2 linked regions of the Homo sapiens genome follow. The protein of the gene in region 2 purifies or fractionates together with the protein of the main gene of each other region. This does not show direct contact. Each region holds a gene or a part of one and is shown on either strand. Other genes may lie near its edges.

Region 1 (3,751 bases), on a different chromosome or scaffold from region 2:
AGCCAGGTTCCTTTGATTCTAATCTCAATGCTCGTCATTGCATTGCTATAGTACTGTTATTAACCTCTTGGATGTGTGCAAGTCTAGTTGCTCTGATTAAATTGTGTATCACGCAAGAAGAGCATCTTAGGCTTGTAGGAGTACACCTAGTGGTCTACATTTAGATCATTAGATATTTGAAGAATTAATGGGTTTGCTTGACAAAAAAAAAAATTACAGGATAAGCTTTTTTTGTGCTGTTCTGCAAAACCACACGATGCTTTCAATTCACTCCAAAAAAAAAAAAAAAATCCAAATCAATCCACTTTCACAGAAGACTTGATAAAAAAGTTTTTAATAATAATCAAGGGCTTTGATATGTGATAACATTTTTTTTTTCCTCCCTGGTGAAAAGGCAAATGAATAGCAGGGTTTTGGTGCAGATGCTTAAGGCAACTGCATGGACCTATCTTCAAGGATATGGGGTGCTGCTGTCTGTCGAGTTGAAAACACAAACGTATCCCTTCCCAGGGTTGTGTGATAGGGTGTATTTTGCGATTTTTCTTTCTTTTTGGCCAGCATTTACTTGTCAGGTGTTTCAAGGTGTCTAATATCCCCACTACTATGCTATTTGCCCAAAAGGCACAGCTGATGGGCCTCCTGCAATTCCTGTTCCATATTCTCTTCTCTTAGCATTTACTGAATTATTGAAAGCAGTACGGAGGCAGCCACGTTGAGTTTAGAGTCAGGCTCACTGGACCAAAGCTACTATGTTTTGCCTTTCTCTGTAAAATGAGAAAAGACCTATTTAAAACGTTCTTATGAGATTTAAATGAGCTGAAATGTAAACTAGTAACAGTTAAGGTAGACGACAAGAACTTATCAAGTATCTATGTGCTGCATAGTGAGATAAGTGCCTGGAAAGTAATGATGGCCCCTGTCATCAAGAAGCATACAGTCTACTAAATTACCAGTTTCAACTCTAACTCCTTAGTGGCCAGAAAACGGAGTAAGTTGGAAGACAGTAAAATCTGAAGTCTGGCACCAGGGATCAAGTGCCAGTTCCTCAACTTTACAGATGCAGTGGGTTGAATAGTCTCCAAAAGATATGTCTATGTCCTAACTCCCAGGACATGTGAAAGTGACCTTATTTGGGAAAAGGGCCTTTGCAGATGTGATTAAGGACCTCCAGATGAGATGATCTTGGATTATCCCCGTGGACTCTAAATTCAATGTTCAGTGTCCTAAAAACACACAGAGAAGTGGCACAGGCACAGGAGAAGGCCATTAGAAGACAGGCCGAGATTGGAGTCATGCAACAAGAGGCCACGGACCGCCTGGAACCGTTAGAAGCTGAAGAAGCAAAGCATTCTCCCCTAGAGCCTTCAAAAGGTGCAGGGCTCTGCCAACAGCTTGATTTTGGAATTCTTGCCTCTAGAACAGTTAAAGAATAAAATTCTGTTGCTTGACACGAGCAAGTTTGTGGTGTCAGTTTCTTCATCTGGAAAATGGGGCATATATCCTAACCACAATCTTATTTCCTGAAGTATAAAATGGAATAACAGCAGTTTCCAGGCACGAGCAGACACTAAAAATGGCAAACATTTATTGAGAGCGTTCCATGCTAAGCGCTTTGCACGTATCACTTAATTATTTCTATTTTATTGATCAGGAAGCCAAAGCTCATAAAAACTGTAATTTTCCCAGAGCCACACAGCTAGCAAGTGAAAAAAACGGGATTACAATTCAAATCGACTCACAAGATACCCCTTTTATCCTCCACGCTGGACTGCTGAGGAAGTATGCAAATTAACACACTTTAGAAACTTTAGCTACTTCAATATTTGTTCAGGCTACGGGATGCAGGCCTCTTATTAACCGCGCCAGCCAGGTCTGTCCTTCAGCAGCCTGTTCTGCCTCGCAAGAGCTCTCCCTCTCTTTCCAGCACGGAAGCCACAGGGTTAATGACGTCATTTCCCGTGGCCGTTGTCGCGTCCTCCGCCCGACGGATTCTTGCAAGGGCCAAAATCCTCGCGCCTCAAGAGGAGGCATAACAGCAGCGGACCAATAGAAATTCCGAATTTTTGTATTCTCTGGGAAGCTCCACCTCTTAGTCCCTGATCCGCCGCGGAAGATGAAAAAAAGCGGCCCGGGGGCGGAGCAAGGCAAGGAAGCGGAAGCGGAGAGGCGGTCGGGATCCGCTGCGCGAGCTGTCTCGGTCCCACGTGTGCGGTGAGTGTGGCAGGCTCAGCGGTCGCTCTTGGGAGGGGTTCGCACCCTGCCGGGCGCTGGAAGTCGGGAAGGTCTCTCGGGGCTGTTGTCCACTGGGCAGTCTCCTCTGGCCTCTTTCTGGGCTAGGAGTTTGGGACTGACTGGAGCCTGGCAAGAAGGGCGGGACTGGCCGGGCGCGGTGGCTCACGCCTGTAATCCCAGCACTTTGGGAGGCCGAGGCGGGCGGATCACAAGGTCAGGAGATCGAGACCATCCTGGCTAACACGGTGAAACCCCGTCTCTACTAAAACTACAAAAAATTAGCCGGGCATGGTGGCGGGCGCCTGTGGTCCCAGCTACTTGGGAGGCTGAGGCAGGAGAATGGCGTGAACCCGGGAGGCGGAGCTTGCAGTGAGCCAAGATCGTGCCACTACACTCCAGCCTGGGAGACAGAGCAAGACTCCGTCTCAAAAAAAAAAAAAAAAAAAAAAAGAAGGGCGGGACTCCGACCTCTCTCCCACCACGTTGCCCTGCGTGCCGGGTTAGAGTGGACTAGCTTCACTCCGGAATCCCAGCCCGTGCTCGGCCTGATCAGCCTGTCTGTGCTACTTCACAAACCCCAACTCCAGTGCTAGGCGGTTTGCCTGAATGTACGCAGATTCTAAGTGCTGGGAGGAAACGAACTGGATGCTGAGTTGGCAGATAGTGGAGTCTGAAGAAGTGATCTTTAAACGGAGATTTGGAAGCTCAGGGAGTACTTCAAGCAGAGGCGATAATGGGCTAAGTTCCTGAGATGGGAGCTAGGAAGGAGTATAGTTAGAGTACAAGATAAAGTTAGCCGGATAGAGTGGAACTAGGTTCTGTAGGGCCTTGAAGGTCATGATGGGGAATTTTTTTTTCTGTACAATAGGAAAACATTTCCGTTCCTATTACCATGTGTAGAAAACATTGAAGACTTGTAAGCAAGTGAGAATCATGAATAGGCCCTGGTTCTCTTTAGAAAATGTATTACATTTGGAAGCTCAAGAGATTGTATTGGTAATAGTTTGCATTAGGGTGGTGACGTAAGGGACATTTAAGAGAACTAACTTATGGTTCAGCGTGGCAGAGTAGAGAGGAAAATGTCAAGGGTAACTCAGATTTCTTACTTGAGCAGTAAAGTAGATGATGTGCCATTGGCTGAGATGGAGGACGATAGGGCAGGGAAAAATAGTATATTGTTGTTTGTGGGGCAAACAACAATAACATAAAGAACAACATAGAGAATTATGTTTTGGACATATTAAGGGTAAGGTTCCTGTTAGACACATAATTAGAGGTATCAGATAAGCAGTTATACACAAGTTTGGACCCCAAGGAGAAGTTCATAATGGAGACATGATTTGGGAGTACTCAGCATAAAAAGCCAGGAGATTGGATGAGACCACCTAGGGAGAAGTGTGGAGAGAGAAGGGAAGTTCCCTAGGGCAAAGATTTGAGGAATGCTAACATGTAGAGGTTGGTCTATAAGAAAATGTCATTTAAACTGAATTTGAAGGATGGGTAGAAATTGTGTTGGTAG
Region 2 (3,751 bases):
GGTTTTAATTAAAAGGTGTTTGTTCTAAAGTATACTTAATCTGCTTGTGTATTTCTAATTAAAAATACCTCATTTCAGTTAGTAGGAAGTAAAGATGTTATCTGTTTATAGAGAAGTTTTATGTAATATTCCAAAACAATAGAAAAAAGCTTTGATTCTTTTAAATAATTAGATTATTCAAGCCCATTATTATGACTTAAAACCTTGAGGTTATACTGACTATAAGAAACAATCACAGACCAAAAAAAATGGGTTAATGGTGGAATCTTTATTCTCATATGTATTTGAATCTTTTGGAATTAATACTGAACACATTTATAAGGTTTGCACTATGCCTTCTTCTGACTTCACTTCGAAAATTCTTTGAAATGTAACACCCTAGAACATTATGTTACCTTTATCCACATAAAGAAAGGATCTTTTCATTTAGAGATGAACTTATTGAAGATGAGCCGTCAGTGTTGTGTGTAATCAATACCACACATTTTCAGAGTGGTCTGAATCCAGAACAAAGAATGAGACAGGTACTCTGATGATATCAACTTGGCTAATTGGGTAAAAGTCTCTACACTAGTTGGGAAAAATCACTTCATGCATCTTTGTATTTTTTAATCAGTGGTGTGTAAGAAGATCTGTATTCCGTGCACTTTGAAGAGAGAAAGGGCTAAATTTGTGTTCCATATTTGATCTTTCCATTTTTGTCTTGTTAATATTTTAAAAGAAAAACAAAAACCTTTGCAGATCCATTCAGTAACCCAAAGTCATATTTCCTTGGCAACAGTAGCCAGTACACTAGATTTACAAAATATCAAAATAGAAAAATTTAAATGCATTCAAAATAAAATGTCACATAGTTCAAGACCATTCTTTGGTGCATTAAAACTGATCTTCCAACATGTAATAATACAGTTGCCTTTCTCCTGATTGAATGTAGATGGCAAAGAATAGATTACTGATTTTAATTCTTTTTAAGATGTCCCCAAAATCTTATAATATTTTCTTTTCAGGGAAGCACATTATGATAATAATTTAGGTTGGGGTTACACATCCATTTTTTGGATAAAGTATTTATGTGATAGTTGATGGTAAATCCAAAAATCAAGCACAATAAATGGGTCAGGTAAGATGCATCATCTTTTCTATGTTATTTGAAATAGTCTATAGTAAGGCCTCAATTAGTGTTAAACTCAGTGAATATCTCCTAAACTTGTGACTGCATAATAAAAACATATTAGTGCCTACATATACTTTCAGGTTTTCTTTTTCTGTACTAGAAACTGCAGTTATGTGGGAGCTTTCTGTTTGCTGTATGAACTACTAAATATATGTGATATATTGGATATATTTTCTCCTAAATCAGCACATCCTGGGAAGTCCTTTATTTGTCTGCTGTATTCTTTGGAAACCCTCTTGGGAACCATCAGCTTTTAGCTCAGTAAATATTGAGGGTTGGAAGGCAAGTCTCAAAAATAAGAAAGTGATAAGGATGCCTTCTTTGGGAAAGTTTATTCCAGTCCTATTATTTTAGTCATAGGGCTGGAAGGGGAGCCCATTTAAGCTGATCTGTGATGGACTCATCTCTAAACTGTGATCAGCAACTTTCAACAGTGCAATATTTACCCAATAAATGTGATTGAATTTGTACAAAGTCATTGTCTGCAGCCATCTCCGTTAATGTGCATGTTCTATGACTCTCAGAACTGGAAGAGAGCTTGGGGATCATCTGCTGACTCTAGCAATTTAATTTGACAAATGTGGAAACTAAAGCTCAAATAAGTGACTTCTCAAAATCAGGAGACTCATTCAACAACCCTTCTGATTACTCCCCTCATAAAGAAACTCAAGTTCCCTGGAGATAATTACAGCAGTGGAGCCAATCTCTGGCACCATGTGCACTGCTGATCTTTATTAAGTATGAGTTAGGGATGATTGCGGGGGTGTCTCCCACCTCCATTAGAGTGTTAGGAGGAGTAGGCTTGGGACTTATTACATTGCTGTCTCTTGGAGCCAGTGCAATATTTACCCAATAAATGTGATTGAATTTGTACAAAGTCATTGTCTGCAGCCATCTCTGTTAATGTGCATGTTCTGTAAAAAATTGCTCATGCATAGACTTAGCTTTCTATTTTAAATGTCACAATTGAGTCAATAAAGTAAACAAAGAGAGTTTATGAGTGTTTACAGTTCCAGGAACACACAGGGGAATCCTTTATTCTGTTTTAAATTAAAGCGTCATTCAAAAAGAACAAACTTTCTTAAATGTTGCTTTTACATCTTTGGCTCAGAACACAGTATTTCTAACTTTGTTTTTCTTATTACTTAGGAAACTAGAGAAATTTCTCCTTGGAAATGTCAGGGGGAAAATACAGTATTTCGGATTAACTTTAGAAAGCTCAGGTTTAAGGCTTATTGACCAGAAGACCTCTTTCTTATCCAAGTGTAGGGCAATTCATTGCACCTTGAGGTAGGGGAGGAGCAAAATCAGGCTGGCAGGGGTCCACGGCAGGGCAAGCCCTAGGAGCTGGTGAGTCTAGAAGGACGGACTAGAGAGAGCTGGCATTGGAATGGACAATCGCTAGAGGGCGCCGGAGCACTAGCAGAGTCAACCTCCGGGACCCATAAGCAGGGCTTCTAGGATAAGGAATGGAGTTTGACCCAACCCCAAGATATGCCCTGGGGATATTGGTTTTCTCAGGTGCATCTGACTCTCCGGCCTGGATTGCCTCGCTGCGGAGAGGGGACAAAAGGTTTTGCCCTGAGCATCTGGTGGTGTCTTCCAGTGCCTGGTTAGGTTGCTCCGCGGCTGGACAGTCTGACTACTCTCAAAACTCCTCGTGACAGGCCTTTCTGGGGTCTGATCGCCCTTTGTTTCCTTACACTTGGGCCTGTTATCAGAAGAACTCTGAATCCGGAAATACCTTGTTTAAATTTGGGCTACAGTTTTCAAGATCCAGGCATTTGGGTGAATCACTTAACCCGAGTATTAGGATCTGGAAAATGGGGCTAGTAATTGTTGTAAATGTGAGGTGTTTAAAAGTGTCTGGCATTTTAGTGCGTAGATAAATGCTACTTCCTGTGCCCATTCTCTTGGGAGTTCTCCCCAAACTTCACCCTTTAAAAAAAAAAAAAAGAAAAATTAAGAATATATTTTACTTAACACAAAATTTTAAAAAATCATGTAATCGATATAGAGATTATTGAGATATTTTACATTCTTTTTTTTCTAGTACTAAATCTTTGAAATCTAGCATGTATTTTTATACTTACAGCACATTTTAATTCAGATTTGCCACATTTTAAGTGCTTAATGCTCCTATGTGGGTAGTGGCTACCCTATTGAAACAGTGCAGATCTATAAGAAGAGAAAATAAAATTACTTTCGCCATTTTTCCTTTTTGTTAAAGGTTAGCAATAATATATACAATGCTTGGCACACAATAGGAGCTTAACACAGGTTCACTGTGATTGTTATTTGCTATCACCATTTTATTTTTAAATGGGCCTCTTCTCCCATCTCTTATCCCTTCCCCCATCTCTTACCCCTTCCCCCTCAGCAGAAGGGTCTCATTCATCTATCTGTTGAATAATAATTGGTCACAGCATTTATGTCAAAAGCTGTGCTAGGCACTGGGGATAAACATAAAAACTTGAGGCACAGGCAGACTGGTGAAAAGAAACATTGAAATTGTGCTGTTAAGTGTGAGGAGAAAGATGAACAAATGATGCTAGGTAAGAGATAAAGAAGGAGATA

What was found. Proteins that work in one complex are often made in the same cells at the same time.
Region 1: the proteins of CPNE4 (region 2) and PUM3 purify together in Homo sapiens (affinity purification with mass spectrometry; 2 studies listed by BioGRID and IntAct, with this or other methods). This does not show direct contact.

Annotation. Positions count from the first base shown.
Region 1 is NC_000009.12:2,842,505-2,846,255, reverse strand, and holds the start of PUM3 (pumilio homolog 3), read left to right. Parts: upstream 1-2,160; 5' UTR 2,161-2,211; intron 2,212-3,751. UniProt on the Homo sapiens protein: Inhibits the poly(ADP-ribosyl)ation activity of PARP1 and the degradation of PARP1 by CASP3 following genotoxic stress. Binds to double-stranded RNA or DNA without sequence specificity. Involved in development of the eye and of primordial germ cells.
Region 2 is NC_000003.12:132,028,304-132,032,054, reverse strand, and holds part of CPNE4 (copine-4), read left to right. Parts: intron 1-3,751.